7 linked regions of the Homo sapiens genome follow. The protein of the gene in region 2 purifies or fractionates together with the protein of the main gene of each other region. This does not show direct contact. Each region holds a gene or a part of one and is shown on either strand. Other genes may lie near its edges.

The links.
Region 1: the proteins of ACSM5 (region 2) and ACAD10 purify together in Homo sapiens (affinity purification with mass spectrometry; one large-scale study listed by BioGRID and IntAct). This does not show direct contact.
Region 3: the proteins of ACSM5 (region 2) and NLRX1 purify together in Homo sapiens (affinity purification with mass spectrometry; one large-scale study listed by BioGRID and IntAct). This does not show direct contact.
Region 4: the proteins of ACSM5 (region 2) and MTG2 purify together in Homo sapiens (affinity purification with mass spectrometry; one large-scale study listed by BioGRID and IntAct). This does not show direct contact.
Region 5: the proteins of ACSM5 (region 2) and CYP24A1 purify together in Homo sapiens (affinity purification with mass spectrometry; one large-scale study listed by BioGRID and IntAct). This does not show direct contact.
Region 6: the proteins of ACSM5 (region 2) and MIPEP purify together in Homo sapiens (affinity purification with mass spectrometry; one large-scale study listed by BioGRID and IntAct). This does not show direct contact.
Region 7: the proteins of ACSM5 (region 2) and MCCC1 purify together in Homo sapiens (affinity purification with mass spectrometry; 2 studies listed by BioGRID and IntAct, with this or other methods). This does not show direct contact.

The regions. Positions count from the first base shown.
Region 1 is NC_000012.12:111,689,053-111,692,552, reverse strand, and holds part of ACAD10 (acyl-CoA dehydrogenase family member 10), read right to left. Parts: intron 1-3,500.
Region 2 is NC_000016.10:20,419,534-20,423,033, forward strand, and holds part of ACSM5 (acyl-coenzyme A synthetase ACSM5, mitochondrial), read left to right. Parts: exon of another isoform or gene 1-249; intron 250-1,724; coding exon 1,725-1,868; intron 1,869-3,500. UniProt on the Homo sapiens protein: Catalyzes the activation of fatty acids by CoA to produce an acyl-CoA, the first step in fatty acid metabolism.
Region 3 is NC_000011.10:119,175,225-119,178,724, forward strand, and holds part of NLRX1 (NLR family member X1 isoform 1 precursor), read left to right. Parts: coding exon 1-50; intron 51-3,500.
Region 4 is NC_000020.11:62,193,028-62,196,527, forward strand, and holds part of MTG2 (mitochondrial ribosome-associated GTPase 2), read left to right. Parts: exon of another isoform or gene 1-309; coding exon of another isoform or gene 310-393; coding exon 394-597; coding exon of another isoform or gene 598-651; intron 652-1,849; exon of another isoform or gene 1,850-1,986; intron 1,987-2,774; coding exon 2,775-2,922; exon of another isoform or gene 2,923-2,926; intron 2,927-3,500. UniProt on the Homo sapiens protein: Plays a role in the regulation of the mitochondrial ribosome assembly and of translational activity. Displays GTPase activity. Involved in the ribosome maturation process.
Region 5 is NC_000020.11:54,171,187-54,175,329, forward strand, and holds the start of CYP24A1 (1,25-dihydroxyvitamin D(3) 24-hydroxylase, mitochondrial isoform 1 precursor), read right to left. Parts: upstream 2,801-4,143; 5' UTR 2,394-2,800; coding exon 2,136-2,393; intron 1,914-2,135; coding exon 1,723-1,913; intron 485-1,722; coding exon 391-484; intron 1-390.
Region 6 is NC_000013.11:23,729,689-23,732,400, reverse strand, and holds the end of MIPEP (mitochondrial intermediate peptidase), read left to right. Parts: intron 1-1,955; coding exon 1,956-2,053; 3' UTR 2,054-2,212; downstream 2,213-2,712. UniProt on the Homo sapiens protein: Cleaves proteins, imported into the mitochondrion, to their mature size.
Region 7 is NC_000003.12:183,014,718-183,017,107, reverse strand, and holds the end of MCCC1 (methylcrotonoyl-CoA carboxylase subunit alpha, mitochondrial isoform 1 precursor), read left to right. Parts: intron 1-1,541; coding exon 1,542-1,670; 3' UTR 1,671-1,890; downstream 1,891-2,390.

The sequences.
Region 1 (3,500 bases), on a different chromosome or scaffold from region 2:
TCTCCTCCCTCCCTGGCTACTTAGTCAAGGGCTCCATCGCCCACTCGGCTGCCCAAGCTAGAAAGCTGGGACTCGCCTCTGACTTTCTGCAATCTCTACCTCACCTCGCCCTATCTAGTTCTGTGCTGTCAAGTCTTTCTCCTGAAAATCTCATCTACCTCTTTGCATTCTCACTGCCACCATCTTGCCCATGGATCCTAACTGGCCCCCTTGCCTCTTCTCAGACCTCTCTCCAATTCTTTCTTCACCCTCCAGTCAGAGTATTCTTTAAAAATTGTAAATCTGGGCCAGGTGTGGTGGCTCACTCCTGTAATCCCACCACTATGGGAGGCCAAGGCGGGTGGATCACCTGAGGTTGCGAGTTCGAGACCAGCCTGACCAACATGGAGAAACCCCACCTCTACTAAAAATACAAAATTAGCCGGGCATGGTGGCGCATGCCTGTAATCCCAGCTACTCAGGAGGCTGAGGCAGGAGAATCGCTTGAACCCGGGAGGCAGAGGTTGCAGTGAGCCAAGATCGTGCCATTGCACTCCAGCCTGGGCAACAAGAGCAAAACTCCATCTCAAAAAACAAACAAACAACACCTTCAATGGCTCCCCATTGCCCTTAAAATAAAATCTCAATTCCTAAGCCTGGCTTAAAAGATCTACTCCCGTCAGGCGCAGTGGCACACGCCTGTAATCTCAACACTTAGGGAGGCTGAGATGGGCAGAACACCTGAGGTCAGGAGTTGGGAAACCAGCCTGGCCAACATGGCGAAACCCCATCTCTACTCAAAAACACAAAAATAACCTGGGCATGGTGTTGGGTGCCTGTAATCCAGCTACTTGGGAGGCTGAGGTAGGAGAATTGCTTGAACTTGGGAGGCAGAGGTTGCAGTGAGCCAAGATTGTGCCACTGCACTCCAGCCTGGGTGAGAAAGCCAGAGTCCATCTCAAAAAAAAAAAAAAAAAAATCTCATTCCTTTCTGCAGCAGCTCCCCATTTTTTCATCTCAACCTGGGATGATCTGGACATACACATCTACATGCAGTTTCCTCAAACGCATGTTCTCCTCTGCAATGCTCTGTTCCACCTGTTGCCTGGCTAATTCCAAACAGTCCTTTGGGTTGCAGTTTACCAGTCACTGTCTTCATGAAGCCTCTTGGGGATACCAGAAAAGACTCATTAGGAGTCTCTCCTGTATGCACCTAAGATGTCCTGTACTCGCCTCCTCCTAGCACTTACGATGACACCCTCACACCACAAAACACCATCATTTCCACTTACAGATCACTGCAGCAGCCTGGTAACTGTTCCTCAAACTTACTTTCAAAAGGTTCAGGAAAAAAAAAGACACACACAACACACATACATACATGTACACGTATACAGATGCATACCTATATACACTCGTGTATAGAGAAAACCAAACATGGCCAGACATTAATAGTGAGTCTAGATGAAAGGTATAACGGGAGATCACTGTAACTTCTTTTGACTTTTCTATAAGCTTGAAATAAAAAGATGGGGAAAAAAACCAAAATAATGAAGGCAAATTCTATTTTCTTCATGAAAATCTTTAAGCTTTTTATGTGATTTCTACAGTTAAAAAGCTTACTAAAAATCAGGAGAGTGCAAAACAGGTTGGTAAGACAGCATCTGAGTTTACAGGAGTCATTCAGTGGGGCCAAAAGGACTCCAAAACTATATACTTTGAGCATCCCCAATCCAAATATCTGACATCTGAAATGCTCCAAAATCAGAAACTCTTTTTTTTTTTTTTTTTTTGAGAGTCTCACTCTGTTGCCCAGGCTGGAGTGTAGTGGCACGAATTTGGCTCACTGCTACCTCTGCCTCCCAGGTTCAAGTGATTCTCCTGCCTCAGCCTCCCGAGTAGCAGGTACTACAGGTACGCACCACCATACCTGGCTAATTTTTGTATTTTTAGTAGAGATGGGGTTTCGCCATGTTGGTCAGGTTGGTATCAAACTCCTGACCTCAGGTGATTCACCTACCTCAGCCTCCCAAAGTGCTGGAATTACAGGTGTGAGTCACGGCGCCCAGCTAGGACTAAAAAACTGTAGAGGTTGAGCATCCCTAATCCAAATATCCGATACCTGAAATGATCCAAAATCCAAAACTTTTTGAGCCCCCACACGATGCCACAATGAAAAATTCCACACGTAAGTACTTAACACAAACTTTGTTTCATGCACAAAATTATTTAAAATATTGTATAAAATTACCATCAGGCTAGGTGTATAAGATATATATGAAACATATATATATAAGTGAATTTCATGTTTAGCCTTGGGTCCCAACCCCAAGATATCTCATTATATATACGCAGATATATCAAAATCCAAAATCTGAACTACTTCTGGTTCCAAACATTTGGGACAAGGGATACTCAACCTCTATAAGCACCTAGAGAAAGGACTCTTAAGTGGTAAATCTTGAATATAATGTGTTTCTCATCTATAGTCAGCCCTCTGTATTTGTGAGTTCCACATCTGCAGATTCAGCCAACTACAATAGAAAATATTCGAAGTAAGGCCGGGTGCAGTGGCTCACGCCTGTAATCCCAGCACTCTGGGAGGCCGAGGCGGGCGGATCACAAAGTCAGGAGATTGAGACCATCCTGGCTAACACGGTGAAACCCCATCTCTACTAAAAATACAAAAAATTAGCCGGGCGTGGTGGTGGGCACCTGTAGTCCCAGCTACTCAAGAGGCTGAGGCAGGAGAATGGTGTGAACTGGGGAGGCGGAGCTTGCAGTGAGCCGAGATGGTGCCACTGGACTCCAGCCTGGGCAACAGAGTGAGACTCCATCTCAAAAAAAAAAAAAGAAGAAAATATTTGAAGTAAAACAAAACAAAACAAACACACACAGTAAGGGCACAGTAACTGACGCCTGTAATCCCAGAACTTTGGGATGCTAATGTAGGCGGATCACCTGAGGTCGAGAGTTCGAGACCAACCTGGTCAACATTGTGAAGCCCCGTCTCTACTAAAAACACAGAAAAAAAATTAGCCAGGCGTGGTGGCGCACACCTGTAATCCCAGATACTCGGGAGGCTGGGACATGAGAATCACTTGAACCAGGGAAGTGGAGGTTGCAGTGAACCAAGATTGCACCACTGCACTCCACATTCCAGCCGGGGTTATAGAGTGAGACTCCATCTCAAAAACAAACAAAAACCAACAAAAATAACAACACAACAATAAAAAATGCAAACAAAAAATACAGGTTAACAACTATTTATTTACACAGTACTTACACTGTTTTAGGTATACATACATATATATGCATGTATATATATTTATATATTTTGATATGGATATGATTTGATATATATATTAAATATATATATTTTTTGATATGGAGTCTCCCTCTGTCACCAGGCTGGAATGCGGTGGCATGATCAGAGCTCACTGCAACCTCCACCTCCTGGGTTCAAGCGATTCTCCTGCCTCAGCCTCCCGAGTAGCTGGGATTACAGGTGCGTGCCACCA
Region 2 (3,500 bases):
ATCAGAGAGGAGCACTCCCATTGGCAGCCAGGCTGACCTGAGCATAATCCTGGTCCCTACCTTAATGTTCAAGGTCCCTCATTCAGTCAGTGCTGGATTTGTCAGCAGCTTTTCTGTGCTTCATTTGCTTCTATAATGCGGTGGTAGTTATTAGAGCTACCATTCAGAGTACATGAAATAACCAATATGGTGCATTTAGCACATAGCAGGTGGTCAGTTAATAATAAACTAGTGGCCATGTATTGGGTACTTAGTGTATCGCTAGATACTGTGCTATGTAAGCCTTCACCTTCATTCATTCATGCAGCGAAGATTTAATGAACATCTATTTCACGACAAGCATTGTGTTTGGTGTTCAGAACACCATAATGGATCAAACATCACCTTATTTAATCCCTGAACAGGACATTGTGATGGGCCCTTTAACCCAGTTTTACAGATGAGGAAACTGAGACTTGGAAAACTAAAGTGACTTGCCCAAGGTGCTAAAAAGTAGTCAAGTCAGGAGTGGGCAGAGCCGAGAGCAGATGTGCCTTGGAGCAAGGGCCTGGTGGAAACCCATCTCAGAATTTGAGACTTTGTCCTGATTGGAAGCCAGAACCCAAAAGGAGCCTCTCAGGGGCCTGAACCATTGAGTTATGAATGCTCACCCCACAGACCAGCTGCATCAGATTCACCTGGCTGCTGTTTTGAATACAGATGACAAGGCCTCACATCTGACCTACTTAACCAGACACAGCTGAGCAAGAGCCCTGGGGATCTTTTTTAAAAAAATCAGCCCATAGGGCCAGGCGCCATGGCTCACGCCTGTAATCCCAGCACTTTTGGAGGCTGAGGCAGGCAGATCACCCGAGGTCGGGAGTTTGAGACCAGCCTGACCAGCATGGAGAAACCCCGTCTCTACTAAAAATACAAAATTAGCTGGGCGTGGTGGCGCACGCCTATATTCCCAGCTATTTGGGAGGCTGAGGCAGGAGAATCACTTGAACCCGGGAGGCAGAGGTTGCAGTGAGCCAAGATCCCGCCATTGCACTCCAGCCTGGGCAACAAAAGCGAAACACCATCTCAAAAACAAAACAAAAAAAAATCGGCTCATATGATTTTGAGAGCTGTCAGGTGGGCCTAGATCAGTGGTTCTCAATTTTGGCTGTTACTAGAATTACTGAGAAGCATTTAAGAAAACATTAAAGATTCTGATTTTATTTTGTTCAGGGTGGATACAGACAAGTTTCTTCCAAAAATTTACCAGGGGACTTCACAGTGCAGCCAGGGATGAGAGCCCGTGGATTAGCTGATCATCCAGATCACAGAACTTTGGGAATTACCTAGATCTCAAAACCCCATATTGGGGGAAACCTTTAGAAAAGAGTTCTAAATTATTAGAAATTGGGATGGGGGTGGAAGCTGTGCCTAAATGTGCAGAATTATAGACATGGACATGTGTGTGTTCTACCAGAAAGTCCTCATACCTTGGTAAGAAAGCATGGACTCTTTTGCGTGAATTATTTATCTATTTTGAGCCTCAGTTTCCTGGTCTGCAAAAGGGTTATAATGATAGTACCTACCCCATGAGGTGGTTGCAGATTACCCAAGCCAGAGCTTTCAGCACAGCACCTCACATGTGGTATTTATGAAACGGTAGTCATATTGTTGTTACACATATTATTGGTGCTACTAACTGTTTTTACCGTGGTAGTGCCACCTAGTGTATTTACGTTTTACAGGGAGGCTTCTACAGAGCACAACTGCATGAGGACAAAGAGTCGAGACCCGCTGGCCATCTACTTTACCAGCGGAACCACCGGGGCCCCCAAGATGGTCGAGCACTCCCAGAGCAGCTACGGACTGGGTTTTGTGGCCAGCGGAAGGTACCAGAGCAGCTTGTCTAGAGGATCCAAGAACAGAAAGTGGGGAGTGGTCTGGAGGGGGTGGTGTGAGGGGAAAGGTGTCAGGAACGGAGGTCAGAGAGCCAACAGAATTACTGAGAAGCCAATAGGAGCAGCTTAGGAAGGATCTTGATGGTTCTGGATTTTACTCTGAGTGAGGTGAAAAGCCATGGGAGGTTTCTTTTTAAATCGTGGCTATATATATATATATATATATATATATATATATATATATATACACACACACATATATATACATACATACACATATAAACATATATATACATATATCATAAATGTACCCTTTTAACCATTTTAAGTGTACAGTTTAATGTCATTAAATACATTCACATTGTTGTGCAACCACAATCACCATCCATTTCCAGAATTTACTTTATCTTTCCAAATGAGAACTGTGCCCCCATTACCCAATAACACCCCATTACCCTCTCCCCTCACCCCTGGTAACCTCTATTTTACTTTTCATCTCTGTGAATTTGATACTCTAGGTATTTCGTGTAACTGGCATCATGCAGTCTGTCCTTTTGTTTTGCAATTTGGCTTCTTTCACTTAGCATAATGTCCTCAAGGTTCATCCGTGTCATAGCATGTGTCAAAATTTCCTTCCCTTTTAAGACTGAAAAATATTCCATTGTATGGATAGACCACATTTTATTTATTTTTATTTTTTATTTTATTTTTATTTTTTTGAGACAGAGTTTTGCTCTTTTGCCCAGGCTGGTGTGCAGTGGTGCGATCTCCACTCACTGCAACCTCTGCCTTCCAGTTTCAAGCAATTCTCCTGCCTCAGCCTCCCAGATAGCTGGGGTTACAGGTGCCCGCCACCACACCCAGCTAATTTTTGTATTTTTAGTAGAGACCGGGTTTCACCATGTTGGCCAGGCTGGTCTCGAACTCCTGACCTCATGATCCTCACGCCTTGGCCTCTCAAAGTGCTGGGATTACAGGCATGAGCCACTGCACCTGGCCTCGACCACATTTTAAATAATCCATTCACCTGTTGATAGACACTTGGGTAGCTTCCACATTTTGGCTATTGTCAATAATGTTGCTATAAACACTGGCATGTGAGTATCTGTTAGAGTCTCTGCTTTTACTTCTTTTGGATATACATGCAGAAATGAAATTGCTGGATCATATGGTAATTCTATGTTTAATTTTTTTTGAGAAGCATTGGGTATTTTGAGCAGAGGAGTGACATAATCTAATATGTTTTTTAAAGGCTCACTCAGGATGTTGGGTTGACAATGTAACTGTAGGGGAAACAGGTAAAGAAGATGACCAGTGCATTAAGAGGCAAGCATGGTAGCTTGCCCGGGGAGCAGTAGTGGGAGAAGAGATGAGATTCTGAATGTATTTTCAACCTAGACCCAATAAGGCTTGCTGACAGAATCAGTGTGGAATGAGAAGGAGGAGTCAAGGAGAGCTCTAAGAGGAATGGCCTGAACAACTGGAAGCACTAAATGATGGGGGAAGAACTGTGGGATGAGCTGTCTGGTGGCAAGAAAACAGTTTGTTTATGGAGTTGTCAATTTGAGAGTCTTCTTAGAAATCTCCATCTCCTTGTTAAAAGTGGAGATGTTGAGTGGGCAT
Region 3 (3,500 bases), on a different chromosome or scaffold from region 2:
CCAAGCTGCTGCCTCTGCGGGCTCTGCCTCTGCTCTTCAACCTGATCAAGGTAACATCCCGATCAAGGTAACCCCCCAACCTGCTCCTTCCCTCCCCAGCACCCCAAGCCGCCCACGCCCCCACATGGTTCCCTGTTCACCCCTTGCTCCTCTCCCAGCAGGAAACTGCTGCTTCCTGCAAAGGTATGAATCTTCTCCCTGGATCTGGTTTCAGCTCTGAGCATTTTGGCTTTTAGTGGGATTGCAGAGAGAGAAGCCACAAGGCTGGGGAAGGCTTGGTGGCTGGGGAAGGGAACCTGGGGACGTGGGGACTTTAATAATAATGCTACATGGATTCCTAAAAATGGTTTCCTTTTTGTGTCTTTCCTCCTAGGAGGCAGGCCTATCCTCTGCTTTGCAGGTCCAGAAACTCGATTGTGTCTGCTCCTCCAGAGGTGATTAGGCTCTGAGAGTGATGACTCATCCTAACTAAATCACCAGAGACGGGTTTATAAAGCAGATGCCATTTTATTCATTTATACTAGGAAGATAAATGGCATTGGTAATTGGCTTAGGGGAGTCATCATGAGGGCAGGTCCACTCCAGAAACCAAATTACAGACCTGAGGACTGTGCTGTGAGTGGCACAGCTGAGCGAGGTCTTTGAGGGCTGGAAGGAGCCACTCTGTGTGATGTGTGCCAGGCGCGTTATCAGTGTTCATCCTTTTGTTTTTCACATTACTCCTGGAAAGGAAATACTATTATGATCCCTTTTATAGATGAATAAACTGAGGCTCAGAGAGGTAAAGTAACTTGTCCAAGATCACTCAAATAGTAAGTTTAAAAGCCCAGGGCTTTGTGATTCTGAATCCTGTGCTCTTTCTGCCAAACTATACTGGTGCATTACGGATATGTCTGTCGAGCTGTGGGACCTTGCTAGGTAACCTTTGTTTTCTCTAGGAATGTTTCAGCAACGCATTTTGAGGAGGCAGAGTGCTGGTTAGTGCTGGCAGAATTTCAACACTTTTTAAAAATTTAAATGTATTTTTATTTTTATTTTTTGAGACAGAGTCTTACTCTGTTGCCCAGGCCTAGAGTGCAGTGGTGCAATCATAGCTCACTGCAGCTTCGACCTTCTGGGCTCAAGCAATCCTCCCACCTCAACTTCACTGAGTAGCTGGGACCTCAGGCATGTGCCACCATCCCCAGCTAATTTTTAAAATTTTAATTTTGTAGCCGGGTGCAGTGGCTCACGCCTGTAATCCCAGCACTTTGAGAGGCGAGGCAGGTAGATCACCTGAGGTCAGGAGTTTGAGACCAACCTGGCCAACATGGTTAACCAAGTGTGGTGCCGGGTGCCTGTAATCCCAGCTACTTGGGAGGCTGAGACGGGAGAATTGCTTGAGCCTGGGAGGCAGAGGTTGCAGTGAGCCAAGATTGCGCCACTGCACTCCAGCCTGAGCAACAGAGACTCCCTCTCAAAAATAAAAAAATAATAATAACAAAATTAAATTAAATTAAAAAATAAAAAATTTTTAATTTTGTAGAGATGGGGTCTCACTAGTGATCCTCTCACTTTGGCCTCCCAAAGTGCTGGGCTACAGGTGTGAACCACTGTGCCCAGCCAACTTTTTATTTTTATAGGCACCAAAGCATAAGGGCTAAGAACAGGGATTTGGTAACTCAGCTATTTGAGTTCAAATCCAGGCTCTGCTACTTATTAGCTGTGAGACTTTGGACAGGTTACTTAGTTCTGTGCCTCAGATTCCTTATCTGTGAAATGGAGATAATACTAGAACTTATATCACTGGCCTAATATGAAGATGAAATGAACTCATCCTCAGGGTCTAGGACATGGTAAGTGCTATTTAATTGTTTTTTGTTTGTTTGTTTTTTTGAGATGGAGTCTCGCTCTGTCGCCCAGGCTGGAGTGCAGTGGCACCGTCTCTGCTCACTGCAACCTCCACCTCCCGGATTTAAGTGATTCTCCCAGCTCAGCCTCCCAAGTAGCTGGGACTACAGGCACCTGCCACCATGCCCGGCTTATTTTTGTATTTTTAGTAGAGACAGGGTTTCTCCATGTTGGCCAGACTGGTCTTGAACTCCTGACCTCAGGTGATCCACCCACCTCAGCCTCCCACAGTGCTGGGATTACAGGAGTGAGCCACCACGCCCGGCCTATGCTGTTTAATTGTTTGTCACACATAGAAACAGACTTAGTTCCAGACCAGCCTGGCCAACATGGTGAAACCCCATCTCTACTAAAAATACAAAAATTAGCCGGGTGTGGTGGCACGTGTCTGTAATCCCAGCTACTCGGGAGGCTGAGGCAGGAGAATCTCTTGAGCCCAGGAAGTGGAGGTTGCAGTGAGCTGAGATCGCGCCACTGTACTCCAGCCTGGGTGACAGAGCGAGACTCTGTCTCACAAAAAAAAAAAAAGAAAAAAGAAAGAAACAAAGAAACAGGCTCGGGCAGCCCACCCCTTCTCACACATCACCTCCGACAGGAGGTCACAGCTGCTGCTGAGGCCACCCCGCCTTGAGGATGTGCCTGCCGGACCTGAGTTGCAACGAGAGGCTGCAGTCTCCCGAGGGGATTCAGAAAGCCCCCAGTTATTGAAAACCCAGCAGAATTGTCAGCCCTGCACCCCCAAGCCCTCTTGGAGGGAGGGTTGCCCTGGCAGAGCACTGAGCCCATCTGTTTATTCACCATCCTGTGGATTCAGCTTCACAGGGTGACATATTCTGTCACAGGTTGGTGTTGGAGAAGGGGCACTATCACCTCTATGAGAGTAACCTCACATATAAACATGAAAACAAGCCAGGTGCAGTGGGGCACACTTGTAGTCACAGCTGTCAGGAGGCCAAGGCAGGAGGATCGCTTGAGCCTAAGAGTTAAAGGCTACAGTGAGCTATGATCACACCACTGCACTCCAGCCTAGGTGACACAGCAAGACTCTGTCTCTAAACAAATAAAAATTAAAACATTAAAAAGTAAAAAAAACCCAGATGTTAAAGGACGTGCCACAAAACAACGTCATGGTTTGTTGCCAGAGGAATGACCCTTCTTCCCTTTCAGAACCATTGCAGGAATGGGGGAAGATATCACAAACCCCCAACATTTATTTCTTTGTCAGATATTTGAGTGCCTGCTGTGTGCCAGGCAATGTGTTAGAATCTGAGGAAATGTCAGTTAACAAAACTACAGGTTTCAGCCCTTTCTGATCTAGTCTGAGCTCCTCTCCCAGAAGGAAACTGCTACTTCCTGCACAGTTTGAGCACAAAAATATCAATGTAACCATATAAGGAAAAATTACAGCAAATGCCTGGGAAGAAGGAGCCCCAGATGCCATGAAAGTGTATAGTGGGGGAACTGGTCTGCGGGGTCAGGAGAGCCTCTTTGTGGAAGGGCATGTCGTCTGACCCTTGTAGCATTAGCCAAAGGAAGAAGTTGGGGGAGGGGAAATGCCCCAGGAAAGGGCAGCACCCTGGAGGCTTTTTTTTTTTTTTTTTCTCTTGAGA
Region 4 (3,500 bases), on a different chromosome or scaffold from region 2:
GGATAACACTCTTGATAACATTTTAATAAATGGGTGTTTTTCTTTTCAAGAAATTTTGACTTGCACTTCAGATTTCCTTTTTAATATTTTCGTTGAGCGGAACCTTGCTATTCCATAAGAGGATGTGTCCAGTGTTGTGGAAGATTTCATGTTTTAAATCCTTTGTACAGAAATCCTGCTCCCAAGTCACAGATAGGCTGACGGGTCAGAGGGCAAGACGTGACCCAGGGCCGAGAGGGTGAGTGACCAGGAAAATCGGATTCATCAGTTCACTTGTTTGTTTCAGAAACGTGCACAAAGACCTGCTGCATGAGGCCCTCGTCTTCAGTTTCTGTTTCATGCCCAGCATTAAACCAAGTATCTCATTTTGCCAATTTGACTTCTGTAGGGGCCATGGCACCTGCAAGGTGTTTCTCAGCAAGATTGAGGACCGTGTTTCAGGGCGTGGGGCATTGGGCTTTGTCCACATGGGCTGGCCTGAAGCCCAGCCGGCTACTGCCACAGCGGGCTTCTCCCAGGCTGCTCTCGGTCGGCCGTGCGGACCTCGCCAAGCATCAGGAACTCCCGGGGAAGAAGCTGCTCTCTGAGAAAAAGCTGGTGAGACTCCTGGAGTTAGAGCAGCTTGCCTGTCTCCTCCTCAGAAGGCACAGGGTGTGGTTTCGGGTCCTCCTCTGGGTCTCATCTCTGTTGATGTTAGTTGATGATCTTAGTGATGGGGCACGTGGAGCTTCTTGAAAATGACAGGGTGAAACGCAGGCCTGCGTGCTAAATCCCACGCTCAGCAAATCCCAGCAGGCTGGGAGAGGCGCTGCGTGCTTGGAAAGCCGTGATACAGGCTGCTCATTTTCCCATGAGCCTGTGTATTTTACATGTATGTTACATATATCCTTTCATATGTGTGGCTATTTCTTAATTTAAAACAAATGCGGAGGCTGGGCACGGTGGCTCATGCCTGTTATCCCAACACTTTGGGAGGCTAAGGCAGGCGGATCACTTGAGGTCAGGAGTTCGAGACCAGCCTGGCCAACATGGTGAAACCCTGTCTCTACTAAAAAAAAAAAAAAAACCTTTTTAAATTAATAAATAAATAAAAATAAAACAAGTAGGGGGGAATATACCTTCCGTTTTATGGTTCTTTAAGCCTTATAAGTTTTTCTTGTTCTATTTACCAAAACCTCCTATTTAAAGCATGAATTGTCTCTAATAAATTCAAGAAAATGCACGTTTATGACTCCCTTCGTTTCCTGCTGAATGGAGGGGCTCCAGATAAGCATTACTGGGACAAACAGCACTTCCAGTGGAAAAGCCGCTTTGGTGGGATGTGTGCTCAAATAGCTGAAGCGTTAGCACAGGCTTGTCTCCTCCCCAGGAGAGAAAGTGAGTCGAGGTTTTGTCCTCCACGAAGTGCTCACCAGTGGGGCTTTCCTCCCTGTCTGGTGGATTTTGCTTGCGTTGGCGCATGACAGCATTACACATTGAAATTTGGAAATAACAGTTCGTGGTTTTCCCACATGGTGGTGCCAAAGAATCTTAGAATGTTTGTGTTTTAAATTTTTAAATTTTTTTTTGTGTTTAAATTTTTGTGTTTAAAAATTTTAAATGTTTTAAAATTTTCTTTTAAAAGAAAAAAAAACTGCATTTGAGGAGTATTGGATCGGAGTGCAGAGGCAGCAGCCCTGGGTGGCTGTCAGGGGCAGGGCACGTCTGTCTGTGCACGTGGGCAGAAGCCAGGTGTCCTCCCCAGCGTGTGGTGAGGTTGCAGCACCCTGGGCTGCGGGAGCTGACCCTCCTGTGGTAGGAGCTGTTGTGTGTTGAACAGTAACCTGGTTGGTTCTCTCTCTTCATCCAGATTGCACCTACCTTAGTGACCTACAGAACAGCTTTCCTAGCCGGGCACAGTGGCTCACGCCTGTAGTCCCAGCACTTTGGGAGGCCGAGGCGGGTGGATCACGAGGTCAGGAGATCGAGACCATCCTGGCCAACACGGTGAAACCCCGTCTCTACTAAAAATACAAAAAACTAGCCGGGCGCAGTGGCGGGTGCCTGTAGTCCCAGCTACTTAGGAGGCTGAGGCAGGAGAATGGCATGAACCTGGGAGGCAGAGCTTGCAGTGAGCCGAGATCCCACCGTTGCACTCCAGCCTGGGCGACAGAGCGAGACTCTGCCTCAAAAAAAACCACAAAAAACAAAACAGCTTTCCCTCCAGCGAGGGGCTCTGTTTGCCTCACCACATTTTTTAAATGAGCCCTGTTTTCATCAGGCCCCAGAAAATACTCTTTCTTCAGAGTCGAAAGCCTGGTAATTGTCCAGGAACGATTCTAACTTCCTATTTCTCTATCGCATCCTGGGAAACTAGAACTTTCTAAGAGTAAAGATCTATGATTTCAGGAATGGTTTTTTTGAATGGAAAGACACATTATATAAGGAATATTTCCTAAACAAGATGTGGGTTTTTTAGCTTAGAAATGCTGATTTTTGTTGTTGGTTTTTAAATCAGTCTCACCCAGAGTAAGAAATGCTGAATTTTTGAAGTGTAGGTCCACACAGAATACTTACATCTGCATTGTGGATTTACCTCAGTCTACAAATGCAACTGACTTGTGGAGACTGTTTTTTATCTTCGGAATTTAGAAGTGATTAGCAATATTAGTGTCATTAACCTCTAATTTTAATAGGCTGTTATAGATAGAAGATGTACATCTCAAATGGATGCATGGTGTCTTGAAAGGACCTTGGAGTGTTGAGATGACGTGGGATATTTGTGTTCTCTGTAGAAAAGGTACTTTGTGGACTATCGGAGAGTGCTTGTCTGTGGAGGAAACGGAGGCGCTGGGGCAAGCTGCTTCCACAGTGAGCCCCGCAAGGAGTTTGGAGGCCCTGATGGAGGGGACGGAGGCAACGGTGGACACGTCATTCTGAGAGGCAGGTGCCCTGGGGCAGTGCAGCGGGGTTGAGGAGGGGCCCCGAGACTGCATGTGCATTTGAACTAAAAACCTGATGTATGGGCAGGCACAGTGGCTTATGCCTGTGATCCCAGCACTTGGAGAGGCTGAGGCAGGAGGATCACTTGAGCCCATAAGTTCAAGACCAGCCTGGACAATATAGCAAGACCATGTCTTTTTTGTTTGTTTGTTTTTTTGTTTTTTTTTTTTTGCCTCAAGGTTTGTGGATCTACAAAAAATTTTTGAAAAAATTAGCCAGACATGGTAGCGTGCACCTGTGGTCCCAGCTACTCAGGAGGATTGCTGGATCCCAGAAGTTCAAGGCTGCAGTGAATCGTGATCACACCACTGCATATTCCAGCATGGGTGACAGAGCAATACCCTATCTCTAAAAAAAAAAAAAGTAAAATTTTTAAAACCCAGCTAGGCGCAGTGGCTCATGCCTGTAATCCCAGAACTTTGGGAGACCGAGGCGGGTGGATCGCTTGAGGTCCGGAGTTCGAGACCAGCCTGGCCAACGTGGTGAAATCCTGTCTCTTAAAAAATAATAATAATAAC
Region 5 (4,143 bases), on a different chromosome or scaffold from region 2:
TTCTCACAGCAAACCCGTGGGGTGGGAACTGTTACTCCCATTTTGTAGATGGGGAAACTGAGGCTTAGGGAAGGTAAGTGGTATATAGCCAGGTCTCATAGCCAGGGAGTGGAAAGCTGGGGTTCAAATCCAGGGCTGTAGAATACCAAAGTCCACACTCTCCATTGCTCCCTCATTGTGATATGACTTTAAAAGAGGGTGGAGGAGGGAGAAATAAGGGTTTGGTGGGGAGGAGGCTGTAGGAAGGAATGGAGAGAAAGAGAAGACCCCCACTTTGAATCACCCGAATTGCATTCTTTTTTCCTTTGTTCTTTGTAGCTGTGACTTGAAGCTCCACCAATATCCCTATGTCCCCACGAGCCCCAGGAAAGCTGGCCCCAGCCTGCAGACCTCATTGATTTTGTTGTCCAGCTTCATCACTTCCCCTGGTTTCATTAGTTTCTTTTGAAAGGCACTCCGGACCCGCTGCCAGTCTTCCCCTTCCCTGTGAGAGAAGCAGGAATACATTTAGAGCACACTGAAAAGAAAAGAAGGAGATGCAGAAATACTCCAGCTGCAACTTCAGGAACCATAAAATCAAACAAACACTGAGAATCATGCCAAGAAATAGCCAGAGAATATTAGCATCAGAATATTTGGGATAAAATAGTGATCATCTTTTGACAATAGTTTGACAATAGGATGAAAAAGCACCTTTCCTCCTAGTCAAAGATTGCACCAAAAAGTTGAAGTCCAGATAATTTGGGTTCAGGGATTTTGAGGTGTCCTTGCAGGGAGTGGGGCTGGGAGGCCTGGGGACAATTCCTAGCGGTAAAAGGGGGCATGTGAACACCCCATCACCAGCAACTCAGATCTGTTTGAGGGAAGAATCTTGTCTTCTTTCAACTCATTGGTGTGGGCTTCATATTTACAAAATATCTCAGATTTAGAATTTTGCCATCGCCTCCAAATAATAACATACAGTCAGAGAGTCACTGGAGTAATAAAAAGCCTTTTGCGATCGTGCACTTGTAGGCACCTGCCCCATAGCAGACCATACAGCCTGTGAAGCACCGTGAATTAATAGGGTTTTTAATTCCAGTCATTATATCCTGGAAAATATAACGATTAGGCATTACAGTTTGGGGGTAAATAAAGGTGCTAACTTGTTAAATGCTAACAACTAAAAAGCAGAAGAATCACATCCCATAGTAGCATTTGTCGACCTAAAACACAACTTTGATATCCCTCCTTATTCCACCTTTACAAGTAGAAATAAGGCATGTCCCCCAATCCTCTGCAGAAAATGTCACTGTAAAAAGCCAAAGAGGCTAACTCCTCGCTTTTGAGCTTACAAGGTGTTTCAGGGAGTTTTAAGGGATAATTTTGTTTGTATAAGATGTTTGCCTGGTACGCTGACTTCAGAACCTCATCCTGCCCAAGAGTCTGAACACCACAGTTGGTACAACCCTGTTTTGGCGTTTCTTTGATGGGAGGGTGTGGCCCTGCCCTGTTGCCAGAGAGAACGCAGGTGCTGGGTGCACAGCACGGCTTTTCCGTGGACCGACTCTAATCTGTACAAGAGCTCAGGGTTGCGATGGCACGGGAGAGGGGCTTTGGTATCCGCCCTACGTAAGAAGCTTCCAACCCCAGGGAACTCTAACTCCGCCTCTTCACAATTTCCAGGCGCCGTCAGGCTCATCAGGTCTGGCCGCATGCCCAGGTCCCTCGGATTGGACTCACAGGATCAGCAGCCCGTAGCCTTCTTTGCGGTAGTCGCGATAGGCCTTCCACGGTTTGATCTCCAGCCGCTGCGGGTACGCGCTCTCGGTGCGGTACAGCGCTTCCAGCAGGCATGGCGAGCCCAGGTGCACCGACTCAAAGGAACCCAACTTCATGCGGAAAATCTTGCCATACTTCTTGTGGTACTCCACCTGCAGCCGGCCGGGCACAGCGCGGTGTCAGCGCGCATCCTCCGCCGTGCCCGAAGCGCTTTCCCTCCTCCCGCCTCCTTCCTCCTAGGGGACCGGGGACCCTCCCTGCCCAGACGCCGAAGCGCACCATGCGCCCGAGGCGCGCATGTCGGGGAGGGTTTGGAGCGCCACTGGGAGGGCGGAAGAGGGAGGAGAGAGTCAGGGGCGCGAAAAGGGGTTTACCAGGGTGTCGTGCTGTTTCTTGAGACCCCCTTTCCAGAGAATCTGCAGCAGGCTGCCCAGCAGTGGCCAGCTGGTGGGGCCCGGCAGGGCGGCCGCGTTCTGAGTCTCGCCACCAGCTGTCAGCGGGCAGACTGGCACCTCTCGCGGCTGAGGGGACGTGTACGCCGTAGATGTCACCAGTCTCGGGGGCTGCCTCGGACTGCGCAGCTGCTGCAGGAAGGCGGCAAGCGAGCGGCTCTTGCTGATGGGGGAGCTCATGGCAGCGGGGGACACCGGAGCGCGGGAAGGCAGGAGGATGGGGTGGGGCGAGGTTGGTACGAGGTGCTAGTGGGAGTCGGGGCTTAACGATTCTGGGAAAAGGAAGCAAAGAGGGCCAGCTGGTGTGATGGAGCGGGGTGAGGCGGGACAGGCAGCAGAAAGGACCTCGGCGAGGATGCTCGACGCTGCACCACGCGACAGCCTCAGAGCATTGGTGCCTCCTTGCACTGGCCGCAGGGGCTGGAAGAGGGTGGCCGGTGTCTGGGGACCTCTTGAAAAGGGAAAGCTGGGAGTCCTCCTGTTGGTCCGCAAGGCTGACCTCTAGGGTCTGGCTGGAGCCACGGGGAGGTGTCAAGGAGGGTAGATGAGATGCTGCTGGCGCTGCGTTTCCTCCTGTCCCTCTCCATGTTCCTATGCCCAGGGACCATGCATTTATGGAGACAGAGCATGCCCTGGGTGGCCAATGAGCACGCAGAGGAGGGCGGAGTGGCCCCCGGCTGGCCAGACTCCGAGGGACGCGGGACCCAGGGGAGGGGGGGTGGAAGGAGGATGGAGTCAGCGAGGTGAGCGAGGGCGTCCGGGCCTGGGGTGACCGGGGCTATGTTCGCTGGGCGCGGGAGGTGGGGTGGGGGCGGCAGACTCCACCCCGGAGATAACCCCCAGGAAGTCATGCGAAGCCCGGAGTTCACCGGGTGTGCTTCGAACGCGCCTCCCCGCCCTCCCCCGGCGGGCAGGAGCCGGCAGCGGCGGCCGTGGTTGCCGCCCGGCGCTTGCACAATCGCGATGCCGGGCGGGCGAGGTCCCCGAGTGCGGGCCCAGAAAAGCTGCCGGCGTCTGCCAGGGCCCCGGGGAGCCCGGGCGCCTCCCGGGGAGCCAGATACCCCCAGCCTGGACTGAAGTGATTTTTTTTTTTTTTTTGCCTTTTTTTTTTTGGAGGAAGTTTGGCTTTCTGCGCCTCCCAGGGTGGGGAGGATTTGAGTCTTACTGAAATGCACCAGAAGAGGAGACTTTCTTAACTTGAGCAAGAAGGGGAGTTTGTAGAATTTCCTTCCTGCTGTTTCATGTTTGGTTGTTTTGCAGATTAAATGAATTAATGCACGTAAAGCGGCAACAACGAAGCCTTGTCTATAGTCAACAGTCAATAAAAGTTAGTTGCTGTTGTTACTTCTTTAGGAAGTTAGGAAATGCGCCTTGAGAGCGTGGCTTGCACCAACGATGCTTGAATTCAGGCTGGGCCACCTCCCCTATGTCCACTGCCCGCCTCTGTTCTTCTACACCGACTACCTTGTGCAAAGGAGGGGCACACAGAGCTTGAAACCACCGCCCCCAGTACTCCCCCTCTCCCCCAAGGTGCGTCCTAGGCAGGTCCAGTGACAAACATACACAATTTCTAGAGTTACCGCGGCTGGCAAGAGTAGAACTCGCTTTGCTAATTCAGGAACGGAAGTTGGAGATTTTTGTTGATTGTTTTAAAGTGGCTCGAATCCTTTCAACCTGATCCAATACAAAACTACCACCAGCCAGGGAGGAGGGGAGGGACATTCTGTTTCCTCGCCCTGCTTTTCAATTACGTGTCTCAGTCATTTTTGCCCCAAGTGTTGGCAAATCCTTCCCTGGTAAATTCTTTTGTAAGCCTCTAGTTTGTTTCTTAAAAATCTTTTGCAGTCCAACTTAAGCTTTAACACCATCATTTCTGATTTGTCTGGAGGGGCTAATGACTGTTTATGTTAATAAAAATAATAGCTATTGA
Region 6 (2,712 bases), on a different chromosome or scaffold from region 2:
GTTTAGTTTCGTAAGACACTGGTTAAGACCTTTTTTCAAAGTGATTGTATCATTTTATCCTTTCACCACAAATGTATGACAATTCAGGTTGCACACAGCCTTGTCAACATTTGGTGTAGCACAGTGGCTCACGCCTGTAATCCCAGCACTTTGAGAGGCCAAGGCAGGAGGATCGCTTGAGCCCAGAAGTTCAAGACCAGCCTGGGCAACATGACAAGACCCCATCTCTACAAGAAGTTTAAAAACTAGCTGGGCATGGTGGCACACACCTGTGGTTCCAGCTACTCTCAAGCTGAGACGGGAGGATCACTTCAGCCTGGGAAGTCGAGGCTGCAGTGAGCCATGTTCACACCACTGCACATGCTGTGTTGTCCAGGCCTGGACAACAGAGCAAGACCTTGTCTTTAAAAAAAAAAAAAAAAAAAAAAAAAATTAGCTATTCTGGTGGATGTGTAATAGTATCTCATTGTGGGTTTGGTTTTCATTTCCCTAGTGACTAATGATGTTGAATGTCTTCTCAGTGCCTATTAGTTGTGTTACTTATTCAGATATCTTCTGTGAAAAACCTGACCTTGTGAAGGTAAAATCTTTTGTCAATTTGTAATTTAAAAAAACATATTTTTACAATGGGTCAAAGGAGTTCTTTATATTTTCTGGATACCAGTCTTACGTGAGATATGTTTTGTGAGTATTTTTTCCAACTATCATTTGTCTACTCATTGGCTTAATGGTTTCTTTTCAAGAGACATTTTAAATTTTGATGAAATCTAACATTTTTTCCTTTTATGCATTGCTTTCTGTGTCCTAAGAAACTATACCTACTTCAGGGTCACAAAGATACTTCATGCGGTTTTTTTAAGATAATAATTTTAGTGTTTACACTTAGGTCTGTGACCATCTCAAATTAGTTTTTATGTATGGTATGCAGTAGGAGTCAAGGCTAGTTTTCTGCCGTATGGATATGCAGTTCTGCCCAGCCGACTACTCTCACTCTTCATGTTGTGACTGAGCCTGCCCACCTGTATGCCCATGACCTGGCCTGATCCTTTACACACAACAGATGCTTCCTTCATGTTCACTGAATTGCAATACAGGTTCAGAGAACAATAGAGGATTCCTGCAATCTTTTAATGCCTTGATTTTGAAAATGGTTTTACAGAATTCATCTCCCAAAGTAAATATCAGTATATAGAGCCTGTTCAACCCTTCAGTTAGCATTTCCTGCCAAGAATGTAGGTTAAAGCAATAAGGTTAATTGCATCAATCTTTGTTTTTGGCTTCTTTAGAGTGAAGAAAGGACATGAATTCAGCTTTTTATTGAATTCTTAATATATGCTAGGCATGGTGCTTCATTGCTTCTACTACATCTTCTTGTTTGATCCTTATAGCAACCTTGTAGGAAATTTGGATGCCAGAGATTTTAAGTGACTTCTGCGTTACACAGTTACTAAGTTGCAAAGCTAGGAGTTCTCTGGGACAGGGAAATCTGGAGGAGAGCCAATAACTTGATTCTGATATAAGATTTCTATAAAAGAATTAACATCTAATTGATTGTAAAGTGTATAGAACTTGATAACAAAACTTGATATGTAATTAAACTTGTTAAATTGTGAATCATCCCAGTCAAAGATAACTAAAAAAAAATCAGTCTTCTAATATCAGTCTCTAAGGGTATAGTCATATATGCAAAAATAATAGCCCTTAGGAAATATATTTAGGCCTAAATCTCTAAGCTAAGGATGGATTTGATAGTAAAAATACATTAAAATTATAAATAGCTCCAAGGCCCACACACTGCCCATGACTTTATAAAATGTTCTTGCATTCAGGTTATACAGCCAGAGTCTTAATTCAGAAAGCCAGAGTGTTCCTCTAGTGTGTGGATTTGATTTTGTGTCTTTGTGCTTCCTGTTGCCTCCTGGTGAACGCAGTTCTGACCTTTCCTTTGTTTGCAGGTATGCTTCAGAAGTGTCCTTCTGTTGATGACTTCGTAAGTGCCCTCGTTTCCGACTTGGATCTGGACTTCGAAACTTTCCTCATGGATTCTGAATAAAAGAAACACTCTACACCTCTTAAATCAAGGTCATGTAGATAATGACTTTGTTATAAATGCTACAGCTGTGAGAGCTTGTTTCTGATTTCATTGTTCGCTTCTGTAATTCTGAAAAACTTTAAACTGGTAGAACTTGGAATAAATAATTTGTTTTAATTATTCTGGCTTTTCACCTGTTTGGCAAATATTTGAGCACATGGAAATCTCTGACCTAGTAACAACAACACTTCTACATGGCATTGTTAAATGGAGGGTATGGGCATTTCCTTAGTATAACCACTCTCCTGTTGAGCTTTTCCCTCTTTCCATGGATCTTTAATTGGTTTAATTAAATAATTAACTAAAAGCAAAATTGTTTAAGACAGAGTTTGAAGCAGTCTTCAGACAGGTTACACTTATAGTTCTTTTAAGAATGATGACCATTTCTTAAGACCACTATCTAAAGTAGGCTTAGAAAATGCACTTTAAATAGTCAATTACAGGCAACCAACAAACCAAGTGTGGTTTCCAAAATACATGTAATTATCTGTACTGTTTTTTCCTGAATGTTTAGGCAAATAGACTCAGAACACAGAGGACTGGCTTGGCAATGAAGGTAGAATGAGTAAGTGCAGGTACAATTAATAAGTGACATACCAGTGTCAAGCAACTGGTGAATC
Region 7 (2,390 bases), on a different chromosome or scaffold from region 2:
TAGAAAAGAGTTTTACTTTAACTTTGTGAAATTGCACCTGTCATTTCTGATTCTGAAATTAATGAAATTATCAATAGCTTGGAATCAGGCGATAATCCAACTGAATGTTAACTGTTGGTATTTTCTAAGATAATCCAACTGAATGTTAACTGTTGGTGTTTCTGGAATGTTAACTGTTGGTATTTTCTAATGTTAACTGTTGGTATTATCTTGGTTCTAAGGCCGAACCAAGGATGCCAGGCATCAGTTTCAAAGTGAAAACCGCAATCAAATTAAATTAGCTGTTTAGGTTTTTAGATGGTTCAAATGGTAGGTCAGTGATTCTTAGCCCTGGCTGAATATTGCAGACAGTCCTCAACTTACAATGGTTCAATTAAGGATTTTTCAGCTTGACAATGGTGCAAAACCATACACGTTGAATATGCTCCTCAGCTTACATTGGATTTATCTGGACCTGACCCCATCGTAAGTCAAGGAGCATGTGTACAGTCACCTGGGGAGATTTGAAAAAATTCTTCCCCAGACCCATTGAATTGCAATCTCCAGGAGTAGAGCCCAAGGATCAATACTTTTGAAAGGCTGGGCGCAGTGGCTCATGCCTGTAATCCCAGCACTTTGGGAGGCAGAGGCAGGCGGATCATTTGAGGTCAGGAGTTCACGACCAGCTTGGCCAACATGGTGAGACCCCATCTCTATTAAAAATACAAAAATTAGCCAGGCATGGTGGTGCATGCCTGTAATCCCAGCTACTCAGGAGGCTGAGGCAGGAGAATTGCTTGAACCTGGGAGGCAGAGGTTGCAGTGAGCCGAGATCTTGCCACTGCACTCCAGCCTGGGTGACAGAGCGAGACTCCGTCTCAATTTAAAAAAACAAACAACAAGGCCAGGCGCAGTGGCTCACGCTTGTAATCCCAGCACTTTGGGAGGCCGAGGTGGGTGGATCATGAGGTCAGGAGTTCAAGACCAGCCTGGCCAACATAGTGAAACCCCGTCTTTACTAAAAATACAAAAATTAGCCAGGTGTGGTGGCACACACCTGTAGTCCCAGTTACTTGGGAGGCTGAGGTGGGAGAACCGCTTGAACCCGGGAGGCAGAGGTTACAGTGAGCTGAGACCATGCCGTTGCACTCCAGCCTGGGTGACAGAGTGAGACTCCGTCTCAACAGCAACAACAACAAAAAACAAAAAAAAAAAAACAAAAGCAAGCAAACAAAAAACTGTTGAAAGCTTCCTAGGTGCAATTCTCATGTGAAGCTCAAGTTGAGAACTGCGAGCTACACCAGAGCTTCCCAGTCATATCGTTGAAAGGTTACTGCTGTGTCCCAGTGTTCATTCCTCTCAACTTGTTACTGTTCTCCCTGTGTGCTGTGATGTTAAAAATAAAAACAACAACAACAACAAAGCGTTGGAAAGCACCGAGAGATGACAAAACATCAAAGTTGGCTACAGTTTTCATTTTTGGTCTCCCTTTCTTGACTTGGTGTATACTCAGTCCTCATTAGTATTGCAGCTATCATTTGTCCTGTCATGTGTCTCTGCAGCATACCATAAAGTCTCCAAAGGATGGCACAGTAAAGAAAGTGTTCTACAGAGAAGGTGCTCAGGCCAACAGACACACTCCTTTAGTCGAGTTTGAGGAGGAAGAATCAGACAAAAGGGAATCGGAATAAACTCCAGCAAGGAAATGGCCAGTTAAGTAGTGTCTTCTCTCTCCACCAAAAAGAGGAAGTGCCTCCAGCTTTTCTGGGGGTCTCATAAAGAGCAGTTTTACTAAATGATTGTATGCTTATGCTGAACACCTTTCATATTGGAGAATCATGCATTTGGGTCACTAATTATCTCAAAATATTTCATACTAATAAAGTTGAATTATTTTTTATTGGAAGCCAATGTTTGTTTCTGCCTCAAATTTTTTACAAGGTAGTCTCTTTTAGGAAGGGGGGAAGAGAAAAGGACATTTAATTAAATGAATTACTTTCCAGTTGCTGTTATGATGAAAATGAGCAGTAATATGTTTCAGAGACAGGTGCCCTGGAGTTCAACAACTAAGGTTTTGTCTGGCCAAAAAGCAACTTGCTAGGTAGTTTAAAAGACATGGATATTAGTCGGGCGCGGTGGCTCACGCCTGTAATCCCAGCACTTTGGGAGGCCAAGGCGGGCAGATCACTTGAGTTCAGGAGTTCGAGACCAGTCTGGCCAATATAGTGAAACCCGTCTCCACAAAAAATAAGCTGGGTGTAGTGGTGAACATCTGTAGTCCCAGCAACTTGGGAGGCTGAGGCAGGAGAATCGCTTGAACCTGGGAGGCAGAGGTTGCAGTAAGTCGAGACCGCACCACTGCACTCTAGCCTGGGTGACAGAGCGAGACTCTATCTCAAAACAAATACATA